4 linked regions of the Homo sapiens genome follow. The protein of the gene in region 3 purifies or fractionates together with the protein of the main gene of each other region. This does not show direct contact. Each region holds a gene or a part of one and is shown on either strand. Other genes may lie near its edges.

What was found. Proteins that work in one complex are often made in the same cells at the same time.
Region 1: the proteins of GSR (region 3) and USP46 purify together in Homo sapiens (co-immunoprecipitation; one large-scale study listed by IntAct). This does not show direct contact.
Region 2: the proteins of GSR (region 3) and GINS2 fractionate together in Homo sapiens (co-fractionation; one large-scale study listed by BioGRID). This does not show direct contact.
Region 4: the proteins of GSR (region 3) and GAB2 purify together in Homo sapiens (co-immunoprecipitation; one large-scale study listed by IntAct). This does not show direct contact.

Annotation. Positions count from the first base shown.
Region 1 is NC_000004.12:52,624,802-52,628,301, forward strand, and holds part of USP46 (ubiquitin carboxyl-terminal hydrolase 46), read right to left. Parts: intron 3,363-3,500; coding exon 3,149-3,362; intron 1,447-3,148; coding exon 1,217-1,446; intron 1-1,216. UniProt on the Homo sapiens protein: Deubiquitinating enzyme that plays a role in behavior, possibly by regulating GABA action. May act by mediating the deubiquitination of GAD1/GAD67.
Region 2 is NC_000016.10:85,675,698-85,678,954, forward strand, and holds the end of GINS2 (DNA replication complex GINS protein PSF2), read right to left. Parts: intron 2,970-3,257; coding exon 2,843-2,969; intron 2,641-2,842; coding exon 2,515-2,640; 3' UTR 501-2,514; downstream 1-500. UniProt on the Homo sapiens protein: Required for correct functioning of the GINS complex, a complex that plays an essential role in the initiation of DNA replication, and progression of DNA replication forks.
Region 3 is NC_000008.11:30,686,347-30,689,846, forward strand, and holds part of GSR (glutathione reductase, mitochondrial isoform 1 precursor), read right to left. Parts: intron 2,974-3,500; coding exon 2,815-2,973; intron 1-2,814. UniProt on the Homo sapiens protein: Catalyzes the reduction of glutathione disulfide (GSSG) to reduced glutathione (GSH). Constitutes the major mechanism to maintain a high GSH:GSSG ratio in the cytosol.
Region 4 is NC_000011.10:78,407,821-78,411,320, forward strand, and holds part of GAB2 (GRB2-associated-binding protein 2), read right to left. Parts: intron 1-3,500. UniProt on the Homo sapiens protein: Adapter protein which acts downstream of several membrane receptors including cytokine, antigen, hormone, cell matrix and growth factor receptors to regulate multiple signaling pathways.

The DNA.
Region 1 (3,500 bases), on a different chromosome or scaffold from region 3:
GAGCTTGCTTTCTCTATCTCCACCAAGTGAGGACACAGCCAGAAGACAGCTGTCTGCAAGGCAGAAAGAAGGTCCTCACCAAGAACCTGACCCTGCTAGCACCTTCATCTGGGACTTTCAGCCTCCAGAACTGTGAGAAATGAATTTCTGTTGTTTAAGCAACTCATGAGGGATTGCGTTGTAGCAGACCAGACTAAGACACAGGCTCTTTGCAAAATCTGACAAAAGCTACTACCTCTCTTTCCAGAAAAATGCACAATCTTATAGAATTTTCCATACAATGTCAGGAAACTCTGAGATCCTTAATGAACCCATAGACTTTCTATGCTGTCAGTAGTAGTTATAATAAAAAATAATACCTGACATTTATTGCCTACTTGCCATGTGCCAAGCATGGCTCTAGGTGTCAACTCATTTAATCCTCCCACCAACCCTCCAAGATGGGCATTCTCATCATCCCTATTTTATAGATGAAGAAAGTGAGGACAGAGAAGATTAATAATTTGCACAGGTTCCACTAGCTAACAAGCAGAAAAGCCAGCATACAAACTTGGGCAGCCTGGCTCCAGAGCTCAGCTCTTAAGCAGCAAAATATGAGGCCACCCACAGAGTTGAAGTTAAACATGCCAAGAAAATATGACATCCTGAATCATGCTCTGGAGAACATGTCTTCAAATTCAATTAACATTATGTACCTACCATGTGTCAGACCCATCCAAACACATAAGCTCATCCAACCCTCAAAACAGTGCTGTAAGTAACTCGCCCCAAATACCCAGTTAACTGCTGTAAAAACAGGAGTCTAGCCTGTCTTCTGACTTCAAGTTCAACATACCACAGCTGACTGCCTCTAAACTGGGGTGATGGTCCTGTTCTACATCACACAAGACCTCCCCATGACCAAAATCTTTGCAAGGTAACTGGTTGACATCCAATTCAATAGATTAAATCTGTAGACCCCAAAATTTCCCCATGGTGTAAAGCAATTCAGCATTTGAGGAGATTTTCCTTTATTATTCAGCTTTGGCCTGCTGAGACATCCTGGATGGATATGTGCTTCCAAAAGTTTGTACTTGAGTTTCATATGCATAAATAGGATTATTTACATACACTGCAAATAACTGCTAAATGCTATAATACGACATTGCAATCACATGCAACATAGCGTACATAAATATGAACATGCGAGCTACATAAGAGCTCCCCTAGTACTTACAGTTTCACAGTTCAAGCATCGAGTTTCATTGGTAAGCGTTCCCTGAAAAATCTCATGGACCCAGGTGAGTTCTGGTTTATTATTTTCCGCAGGTTCGTTCATGTTGCCATTTTTTAATTTTCCATTTTGTTTTTCCTGTTTCTTCTCCTCCTGAAGGATGTCCGCAATAGTGTTTAGCAAATAATTTAAAAATTCATGAGCATCCTGCTGCATGTAGTTATCAAAGAGATCTGGAAAGGAGAAGGTGGTTATTTCAGTCTCTGGTTCTTGAAAAGCAAATGGATGTAATTAGTGTTACATGCCATACTTAAATATTTTTTTTTTGAGATGGAGTCTCGCTGTGTCGCCAGGCTAGAGCGTAGTGGCATGATCTCAGTTCACTGCAACCTCTGCCTCCCAGGTTCAAGCAATTCTCCTGCCTCAGCCTCTTGAGTAGCTGGACTACAGGTGCATGCCACCACACCCAGCTAGCTAATTTTTGTATTTTTAGTAGAGACCAGGTTCACCATGTTGGCCAGGATGGTCTCAATCTCTTGACCTTGTGATTTGCCCACCCTGGCCTCCCAAAGTGCCGGGATTACAGACGTGAGCCACCGCGCCTGGCCCATACTTCAACTTTTATATTGAAAGGATGGACAGGTATGGAATATAAATATACTCATCTCTACCAGGCAGCTTCAATGAGTAAGTTTCCAAAGAGCTTTTTTAATTCATTTCCATTTTCTGCCATGCACCAAGAACAAAATTTCCCGTATCTCCCTAAAGTCATCACATTTATATAAAACTACCAAAAGTTCTATTTGTTCTACAAAGGAACAGAAGTTATCAGATAAGTTCCCTGATAAAATATCAATTTTTAATATGATGTAACTACCAATGATCAATTAATTATTCATTGGGTAATTTATTCAGAGCAACTGGGGTGTCCTCCCAAAGATCATATTAAACCCTGGACCAGCCTGGAAGCAGCTTAGATGAAACACAGAAGGGAGATGAGGGTATGTGTGAGCAAGCATCTATCTGATAGTGTTCCGAAACCAAATACAAATGATTCCAGAAGCCTAGTGCTGCTCCCTGCCATAAGGACAAACAATCAGAGATGAATGCAGCTGTGAACCTTCATTATTAATCACGTTCACAACTCGACAGAGTGCTCTGCTTCCTTCTCCACTGAAATTAGTTTTAATCTGGTATGTATAAACTGTAACTTCAAAATACAGCAATCAAATTAAAAGAGACTTTATAAAACAAATACCTGATTAACCATGCACGTCTGATGAAGTAAGGCTGAATCTAAGATAAATAGTAATTGCCATAACAAATATCTTTATAGTCATAAAAACTGCCAATACAAAACTTCTGGAATACACACCTAGTTTCTACTACCAATCCCCCAGAAGAAGAAGATAGAAAAACCAGAAAAATCAGGACTTTTAAAAACCATATAAAGCAATCAATTTGATATCCTTCAATTACCTCAGGCAAATGAAAATCAGAGGTATTGTATTTAAAACAGCAGAGGCTCTGATTAGATAACAGGCACTTATTTTAATCACCTATGACAAGTTTATAAGCCAGTACTATTTTATTTAATTATTGCATCAACCAATTTAGGCCAATGAGTATCCCACTCCGAAGGCTGCCTTGGACACTATTCTCTCTTACAATGATCCTGCCCAGAATGGAGCAAATAAAATGGTCATTCTAAATTGGAATAATAAATGTGCGTTTTTAAGCATGTTTCTAACCCAGTTTTGTTTTAAGTTTACTGGGCAGAGAAGAAATGTTGTTTCTTAAAAAATGACACCGAGTAGTTAACCATGCTTATTTTCCCTTTTCAAAAAAATGCCAGCTCTTCCTTTTGAGGAGATACAGAACCATCAATTCTCCTTATTTCAGAGGCTTAAATACATTATACTGCATACTACTCACCATTCTCTTTTCTCAGCCTTGAAATGAACTTCTTTGGTGGGATGACGCCAACCTTCTTCTTCTGTGTGGCAATGCTGTGGAAAAGGTCCGCCAGGCACGTCAGCAAGTTTTCCTTCTTCTTTTGCTGGGCCTTGTATGCCAACACATTCTCCCGGAATGGACGGCAGAAGTACAATGCCTGAAGCACGGAGTTACAGTAGCATGTGTTTCCAAACTGCCAAGGGACAAGAGGGATGGCTCAAGTCATTGCCTGGGGATGAGCCACCTCTGGAATAAGTGGTGAGGGTGAGAAGGTCCCTGCTCCGTGAACTGGCCTGGATGTCCCTGTATTGGAGTCCAGCTCACCATATTA
Region 2 (3,257 bases), on a different chromosome or scaffold from region 3:
TCCCTGAGCCACATGTTTCACACAAGTGTAGAAAATGCCAGGGATCCACCACAAGATGGAGATGGTCAGCACAAACCGATTCTGTTCCTCTTTAAAGTGTATATTAGCCACTTAGCAATCTCTATATTCTTTCAAGTAACCAAGCTGTTGACTTTCTTACTACTTGCAGTAGCCTGTCCCCAACTTTTCCATCCAGTGCTTAACCTAAAAAACTCCTTAACTCTGCCTTGACCTGAGGAAGACCATGCTAACTGGTGTTATTTTGTATGTACCCTGTGCTTAATTCTATAACAGTAAACCCCATACGCAGGTGGGAGGGAGGAACACCGGTGCCTCGGTCACTCTGGGGGCAGTTTAGATGCTGTGAAATTAAACCTGTTCTAAGTGTACTTGTTTGAATTAATTGTATTGTAATATTATTTGTTGAATGTAGTAATTAGGTATTTATGAATATATTGCTGTAATTTCTGACAACATCCAAAAAATAAAATCTTCCTAAATTATGTTAAGAGGAAAATCTTTTTTATGATATAAAACAAAGCCAAACAAAGAAAAGCTCAATAACTATACATCTCCGCAGACGGAGCTGCCTCCACTGGCTCAGGCTCTAAGAGGAGGGCATTAGGACCCCTTGCCCTCCACAATAACAAGTGGTTTCATTCTAAAAGATCCCCAGATGAAAGCAGGAGGATTCCAAGGAAGGCTGAGATGAAAGAACAAGTCCTATGAGCTGAACCAAGTCTGAACAGCACCTTAAATTATGGAGACCTCATCTTTTGGTCCCAGTCTTCCAGGTCTGACCCTTCAGTGTCCAAATAACCACCAAAACCTGCCTGGCGGGGACACGTGGGCAGCAACATGGAGTGATAGTGTGCAGCATGCTAGACACTGGAGGGCAGATGCTGGGTGATAAGTCTTTAGGCTCAGCCTGTCACACATGCGCATTCTCAGAGCTCCCCAGACAGCACCCCACTGCTTTTGGCCCACTGGTGTCCAGCCAAAAATAGGCTGGCCAGGCATGGCGGCTCATGCTTGCAATCCCAGTGCTTTGGGAGGCTGTGGTGGGAGAACTGTGTGAACCCAGGAGTTCGAGGCTGCAGTGAGCTATAATCACGCCACTCTACTGCAGCCTGGATGACAGAACGAGACCCTGTCTAAAAAAAAAGTTAAAATTTTTTTTGTTTGAGACAGAGTCTTGCTCTCGTTGCCCAGGCAGGAGTACAGTGGTGCAATCTTGGCTCACTACAACCTCCGCCTCTCGGGTTCAAGCGATTCTCCTGCCTCAGCCTCCCGAGTAGCTGCGACTATAGGCGTGTGCCACCACACCTGGCAAATTTTTTTTTTTTTGTATTTTTAATAGAGACGGGGTTTCACCATGTTAGCCAGGATAGTCTCAATCTCCTGGCCTTGTGATCCACCTGCCTTGGCCTCCCAAAGTGCTGGGATTACATGCATGAGCCAAGCCAATGTGCCCGGCCAAAAATTAAAGTTTTTTTTAAAGCTGATTACAGAACCTTCTATCCATTGCATGATGCTGGACGATCATTTCACCTCTCAAGGTAATGTAATTTCTGTAAAGGTCCTAACATTTCCAAAATGCTACGAATAAAGTAATTTTCTCTTAGGAAAAAAATAATTTCCCCTGAGCCCACTGTTACCTACAACAAAGAATCCTTCCCCAAATCCATCAAGAGCAGCACTGAAAGTGACTTTTCTTCTAGCATTGTCACTCATGCTCAATACATTGTCACTCATGCTCAATACATTGGATTCGTTTTTTTCCTGACTCTCCTCTTGATAAGCAACCCATTAAACCTGAGCTAGAAGTAGCCAAGAGAAGGAGACACCCCAGGTGTTGGTCTGCAGTTTCCACTTAACTGCCGTGTGCCTCAGTTTCGTTGACTGAGTCATCTCAGCCACAGGCTCAGTCCTTTTACTTGGTAGTTACGCAGCACAAAAACCTAGAGAGTCAGAGCTGAGTTGGGTCCATTTTTATTGTGGATCAGGGCTTAGAGGATAAGCACCGGTCAGCATTGTTGGCTGCACCATCTGCCATCCTTCTCTGTGAGCCACCTCTGTGAGAGAGTCTAAATTCAGCCCAAGAAATCAGGATCAAGAAGGGGTAAAAAGCCGTGGACCACATGGCCACTCCTGCTGTATCTACACCTACCAGTCACTGAACACCTGCCCAAGTGTGATGGCTTCCATGCAGGAGACCCAAGTGGCTCTGCTAGGGAGAATGACTTATTTACCTAAGGCTTTTTTATTTCTCAAAAGTGGGGGGAAAAAGGGCTGGTTTCTAGAAACAGATGTGGAATTGAAGAATGTCCCAGGGAGCTAAGTTTTAAGGACTAATCACAAACTTGTTTCTCCAACAACATCCTGAATCCATTCCTTGCACCATCACACATTTTTCATGCATCAGAAGTGTTTCTAGAGCTCCAGAACCACGAGTACCTCATCACGTCCTGAGCGCTCACATCCCCCAGCAAGCCGCCTGCACCAGGCCTTTCTCTAGAAGTCCTGAGACTGAGTACTCTCCAGAGGCTGGAGGTTCGTGCGGAGTTTGTACATGTGGTTGAGCGCTTGTGTGAGGAAAGTCCCGCTGGTGTTGATCTCCATCAAGGTCAAGTTATCCAGCTAAAGCAAGAAAACAGACCAAGTTGGCCAAGGAGTTTTTGATTTTGAGAAAAAGGTAAACTCTACTGAATAAAAATAAGAAACCAATGAACTGTTGAAAAGCACAGCTAGTAATGCCTGCCTGTAATAGCCTCAGCAGACGGGAGCCATGTGAAATTATGCGGCATCAAGGCCACCAGCACCCAGGCAAGGCGGCACCTACCTTGGCATGTGCCTCCTGCTGTCTCACAAAGCTGTCAGCAGACACTCGGAGTTTGGCTATACGAGTGTCCCACATATCCTTGACCAGGGTCCGGATTTCGTCTGCCTTCGGGATGTTGTCTGAAGCACTAAAGGAGCAAGGGCTAAAGTCAGTCGGGGAACACTTGATAACCTGAGGCAATGCTGGATAGAGTGGCTCTTTTCAGGCAAAATACCGTGGCTATTCCAGACTCAGAAAGTCTGTTTTGCTTTATTTTCAACTTTAGGGTGTAAAGATTTGTAGCAGTTAAGCTTGGTGCGGCAGTGATCCACATGGAGTTTCTTTTGCTCACATTAACTATCCCATGGCAGGCTGCTGAACAGGACTGCTGTTTACCTAAGAAAATTAGTAGAGAATCAGCTCTAAGTCAGAAGCC
Region 3 (3,500 bases):
TCAAATGAGACTGAACCTTTTTTTTTTGCCTCATTCTTCAAAAATTTAGCAAATATAGGCTGGGTGCAATGGCTCATGCCTGTAATCCCAGCACTTTGGGAAGCTGAGGTGGAAGGATCGCTTGAGCCCAGTTCAAAATTAGCCTGGGTAATACAGCGAGACCTTGTGTCTACAAAAATTTTTTTTAAAAATTAGCCAGGTGTGGTGGACCACGCCTGTAGTTCCTACTACTTGGGAGACTAAGGTAGAAGGATGGCTTGAGCCCAGGAGTTTGATGCTGCAAGGATGCAGTGAGCCATGATGGCACCACTGTACTCCAGCCTAGGTGACAGAGCAAGACCCTATCCAACCCCCCCAAAAAAAGTTAGCAAATTTAGTTGAAAACTGGACCTATCAGTGCTTACATCTGTACAATGGCAAAATATCTCTTGAAAGGTGAAAAGCTGAATGACCAGTTTTTTGTTGTTGTTGTTTTCTTTTGGTGTTTTTTTTTGGTTTTTTTTTTTTGAGACGGAGTTTTGCTTTTGTTGCCAGGGCTGGAGTGCAATGGCGTGATCTCGGCTCACTGCAACCTCAGCCTCCTGGGTTCAAGCGATTCTCCTGCCTCAGCCTCCCAAGTAGCTGGGATTACAGGCATGCGTCACCATGCCTGGCTAATTTTTGTATTATTAGTAGAGACGGCATTTCACCACGTTGCCCAGGCTGGTCTCGAACTCCTGACCTCAGGTGATCCACCCGCCTCAGCCTCCCAAAGAGCTGGGATTACAGGTGTGAGCCACGGCGCCTGGCTGACTAGTTTTGTTAATATGAAAATAGGCAATTAATTTTACTAAATGTCATTGAATAAGATTACAAACAATCAAAACATCTCCCTGAATATTTTATAAGTTAACATGCAGAAAAATGACCTTTTACAGAAACAGAAAAGGAATCCACATTACAACAGGAACTTAGTATTAGAACATAAGTCAAAAGGTATACACTGCTCAAGCAGCTCTATCAAATATATACGCCTCAGGCTGGGCGCAGTGGCTTACGCCTGTAATCCCAGCACTTTGAGAGGCCACGGTGGGTGGATCACCTGAGGTCAGGAGTTCGAGACCAGCCTGGCCAACATGGTGAAATCCTGTCTCTATTAAAAAAATACAAAAATTCGACGGGCGTGGTGGTACACGCCTGGAATCCCAGCTACTCGGGAGGCTGAGGTAGGCGAATCGCTAGAACCCAGGAGGCAGAGGTTGCAGTGAGCTAGATCACAACACTGTACTCCAGCCTGGGCAACACGGCAAGACTCTGTCTCAAAACAAACAAACAAACAAACAAACAAACAAAAAAACCCAGAACAAAATAAATATATGCACCTCAAACATAAAATATCCTATTATTACTAATAGAGTAGTATAGCATATCAGAAAAATCATCATCATTATCAATAGCAGGTGAACATTCATTGTGTTCATAATGTAAGCTAGGGTCTCAGTTATAAATTACTTTGCATGCACTTTTTCATTTACTCTTCTGTATAACCCAATGAGGCAAGAACTTTTTTCATTCCCATTGTGAATATGAACCACTTGAAGCAGAGAAATTAAGCTGCTTGCTCAAAGCCATGCAACTGTTATGTTGTAAGAACTAAGGTTCAAATTTGGGTCAAACTCTGGGAACCAAACCCCAAGCTCCCATTCTAGATTTTACTTCAACATTTAAAAGAACAAGTAAGAATGCCAACTGTCCACAAATACAGACAGCACGGGTAGAGCCAAGAGAGACAGCTTCACATCTGTTCCCATCCCTGTGTACAATGTACAAGACAGTTACCCACCCAGCAATCTGGATTACCTACTACAGATGCTAAAAGATCAGCATAGGACTTGAAAGAGACATTCACATAGCAAAAACGAAGTCTGTAAGAGGGAGGCCAATAGGAAACTAGGTTAGAGGTGGCAGGCCGGCTGGGCATGGAGGCTCATGTTTATAATCCGAGCACTTTGGGAGGCCGAGGTGGAAGGATCACTTGAGGCCAGGAGTTCAAGAGCAGCCTGGGCAACATAGTAAGACTCCATCTCTACAGAAAACTTAAAAATTAGCCAGGTGTGGTGGCACATTCCTGTAGCTCCAGCTACTTGGGAAGCTGAGGCAGAAGGATCAGTTGACCCCAGGAATTCAAGACTGCAGTGAGCTATGATCATGCCACTGTACACTAGCCTGGGTGACAAAGCAAGACCCTGTCTCAAAAAAAAAAAAAAAAAAAAGGAAAGAAAACAAAAAAGAAAAAGGCCAGACGTGGCGGCCTTTTTCTGGGACATGCTGGGACATGCCTATAGTCCCAGCACTCTGGGAGGCTGAGATGGGCGAATCGCTTGAGCCGAGGAGACCAGCCTGGGCAACATGGTGAAACCTCATCTCTAAAAAAAATAAAAATAAAAAAATTAGCTGGGCATTGTGGCACACACATAGTTCCATCTACTCCAGAAGCTGAGGTGGGTGGATCACTTGAGCCTAGGAGGTTAAGACTGCGGTGAGCTATGATCACACCACTGAACTCCAGCCTGGGTGACAGAGCAAGACCTTTCTCAAAAACAAAAAGAAAAAAACAAAAACAGAAAAGAAAGGAAAAGGAAAGAAGAGAAGAGAAAACTTTTTTTTTTAATTTCAAAGGAAGAAGCAATGAAATTTGATCACAAACTGAATACATGGGAAAAAGAGAAAAGAATCCAATGGAATCCACCCAAGTTTTGGGTGTCTGGGGGGAAAATAAAACCATAAGACTCCTAGTAGATTCACAAATGTTTCGGGCAGACCAAGCCAGCTTACCAGTTTGTTTAAACTCAGGTCCTTGGTATTCGGGACCCGCCCAATGGCCCAGAGCAGGCAGTCAACATCTGGAATCATGGTCATGACTGGTAGCCTACCGGGAACTGCAGTAACCATGCTGACTTCCAAGCCCGACAAAGTCTTTTTAACCTCCTTGACCTATTGGCAAATAAAATGTGTTACACATGTGTGGAGGCTCAGGGAGGACAGGGGAAGAAGGAAAGCAAATACAGAGGAAACTAGAATTTTTAACATTAAAGAAAATCCCTACTGAATCCCACATACAAAGATAGACATAAACTTTTACCCAAAGGCCACCAACACTTGAACTCCCTTAAACCAAGCCTGTTCCCTGGGTTGACCCAAATCTTCCAGTCAGTGGCTGGGAATGTCAGCTCATGACACCATTGTAATGCCTCACTTTAAAAACAAAGTATTTTAAAGTGTACTTCTGGAAAAATGTAATAACATTTTAAGTGGTAAACCTAAGCATAGTGCTTTGAAAGTAGGCCACGGCAGCATCACTAGGAAACTTTTCAAAACTGCACAATTAGTGCCTCTCCCTGGGTATATACGTGTGTGTGTGTATATATATATATATACACACACACATATATATATAAAATAAATATACGTATATTTATATATAAATATATTTATATATGTAAAATAAACATATGCATATT
Region 4 (3,500 bases), on a different chromosome or scaffold from region 3:
CCTGAGGGAAAGCAATTGGAAAGACCATGGATTTTTCATTAGAAACCATGCAGGCCAGAAGGAAAGGATGCAGTATTTTACAGGTGCTCAAAGAAAAGAAGTGTCAACTAAATAATTCAATATCCAGTGAAAATATCAGAATGAAGGGGAAAATGAGACCTTCTCAGGTGAAGGAAAATAAAGACAATTTATCACTGGCCAATCTACCCTAAAGAATGGCTAAAGGAAGTTCTCTAAACAGAAAGGAAATGAAAAAAAGAGGAACCTGAAAACATCAGCAAAGAAGAAAGCACATAGTAAACAAAAATGTAATTAAATAGTCTTTCCTTCTGAGTTTTCTAAATTAGGTTTAATGACTGAAGCAAAAATTATAGCACTGTCTGATATAAAAAAAATATTTAAGACAATTATATATGGAGGATGGCAAAAGGACATAAAGGGAGGTAAGGTTACTATACTTTACTTAAACTTGTAAAATGATGATACAGACTTCATTTAGATTATAAGACGACACCAACTGACTGTTGTATGTACAGTATAATACCTAGAGCAACCACTAAAAAAGCTGTATAGAGAGATACACTCAAAAACACTATATAGATAAATCAAAATGGAATTCTAAAAAATATTCAAGAAACTCACAGGAAGGCAAGAAGAAAACAAAAACAGAACACAAACAAAAAATAAAGTGGCAGAACTAAGCTCTAGCATATTAGAAATTATATTAAGTGTAAATTTAAATATACCAATTAAGACATAAATCAGCACAGTGGATTAAAAACATGCCCCATGATATGGTTTGGGTATGTGTCCCTGCCCAAATCTGAGGTCAAATTGTCATCCCCAAATATTGGAGGTGGGGCCTGATGGGAAATGATTGGATTATGGAGGTGGAGTTCCCCTTTGGTGCTGTTCTCATGATAGTGAGTGAGTTATTGTGAGATCTGGTTATTTAGAAGTGTGTAGTACCTCTCCCCTCACTCTCTTCCTCCTGCTCCAGCCATGTAAGATGTGCCTGCTTCTCCCTCACCTTCCGCCATGACTGTAAGTTTCCTGAGGCCTCCCCAGCCATGCTTCCTGTACAGCTTGTGGAACTGTGGGCCAATTAAACCTCTTTTCTTGATAAATTACCCAGTCTCAGGTAGTTCTTTACAGCAGTGCGAGAACGGATTAATACACCCCAACAATATGCCACCTATAAGATATCACTTCAAATACAATGATATGGGTAGGTTGAAAGTAAATTGATGGAAAAGATGTATCATGTGAATATCAATAAAAGGAAAGCAAGAATAACTATATCATCAGATATAGGCTATAATATATCAAGTAGCCCTCAGATACTTGTATAATATATCAGATAACAAGTAGACCTCAGAGCAAAAGAAATTACCAGAGACTCAGCAGGTATTATATAAAGATAAAAGGGTCATGCCACCAAGAAGATGTTGCAATTCTAAATGTGTATATATTGAACAACAGGGCTGGGTGCGGTGGCTCATGTCTGTAATCCCAGCACTTTGGGAGGCCGAGGCAGGCGGATGACCTGAGGTCAGGAGTTCGAGACCAGTCTGGCCAACATGGAGAAACCCTGTCTCTATTAAAAATACAAAATTAGCCGGGTGTGGTGGCGCATGCCTGTAATCCCAACTACTTGGGAGGCTGAGGCAGGAGAATTGCTTGCACCCAGGAGGTGGAGGTTGCGGAGAGCTGAGATCATGCTATTGCACCTCCAGCCTGGGCAACAACAGCGGAACTCCATCTCCAAAAAAATAATAAAAAAAATAAAATATGTGAAACAAAAACAGATATAAGTGAAATGAGAAACAGAAATATTCACAATTATAGTTGGAAACTTCAACCCCTGTCTCTCAACAATCGACAGAAGAACTAGATAGAAAAATCAGCAAGGATATAAAAGAATTATATATATCACTATCAATCAAAAAGATATAATTGACATTTATGGAATACTTTACCCAATAATAGCAGAATAAACATTCTTTTCAAAGTACCCATGGAACCTAAAGCAAGATAGACCACATTTTCAGCAATAAAATAAACCTTGACAAGTTAAAAATAATTGAAATCAAATAGAACTTACTCTACTCCCACAATGAATTCCAACTAAAAGACAGAAACAGAAAAATAATGGGAAAATCTCCAAACATTTGGAAACTAAACAATGTACTTGTAAATAATCCATGGTCAAAGAGGAAAGTCTCAAGGAAAGTAAAAAAAATATATATATACTGAGCAAATAAAAATTGAAAATGCAATTTATCAAAATTAGTGGGACACAGCTAAAGCAGTGCTGAGAGGGAAATTCATAGCAGTAAATGAATACATTAAATAAGAGGAAAAGTCTCAAATGAATAAACTACTATATAAAAAAATCAGAGGCCAGGTGCAGCGGCTCATGCCTGTAATTGCAGCACTTTGGGAGGCCAAAGCAGGCAGATCACTTAAGGTCAGGAGTTTGAGACCAGCCTGGCCAATATGGTGAAACCCTGTCTCTACTAAAAATACAAAAATCAGCTGGGCATTGTGGCACATGCCTGCAATCCCAGCTGCTCGGGAGGCTGAGGCAGGAGAACTGCTGGAACCTGGGAGGTGGAGGTTGTAGTGAGCTGAGATCGTGCCATTGCACTCCACCCCAGGTGACAGAGTGACATGCTGTCTCAAAAAACAAACAAAAAATAATAATGAAGCAATGTCAGTATGCAAGAATAAGGGTTAAAAAAATAAAGCAGTGGACCCACTACAGACCCTGCAGACACTGAAAGCATAATACAGGATACTGTAACTCCACTCACATGTATGTAACAACTTAGACAAAATGGACCAATTTGTTGAAAAATGTAAACTTCTATAATTCAGCCAATATGAAGTAGATAATTTGAAGAACCCCGTATCTATTAAAGAAATTGGATTAAAAATGTAAAAAATTCCTAACAAAGACATTTCCAGATCCAGATGGTTTAATCTGGAGAATTCTACCAAAGGTTTAAAGAATTATACCAGTTCTACACCATCTCTTCCAGAAGGCTAGACATGGTGGTTCACACCTATAATCGCAGCACTCTGGGAAGCCAAGGTGGGAGGACTGCTTAAGCTCCGGAGTGTGAGACCAGCCTGGGCAACGCAGGGAGACCCTGTCTCTACAAATAATAAAAAAAAAAATTAGCCAGGCACAGCAGTACGCAGCTGTCGTCCCAATTACTTGGGAGGCTGAGACAGTAGGATCACCTGAGCCCAGGAATTTGAGGCTGCAGTGAGCCATGATTGTGCCACTGTCGCCAGCCTGTGTGACACAGCAAGATTCTGGTGGGGGTGGTTGGGGGGGGGGATGGTGGAAGGAGAAGAAAATAAACGAAGGAAGAAAGACATATATAAATAAATGTAAAATAAATTCATGGACTGGAAGATTTAATATAGTAAAGCTGTAATTTCTTCCCAAATTGGTACACAGGATTAATGCACTTCCTATTAAAATCTCA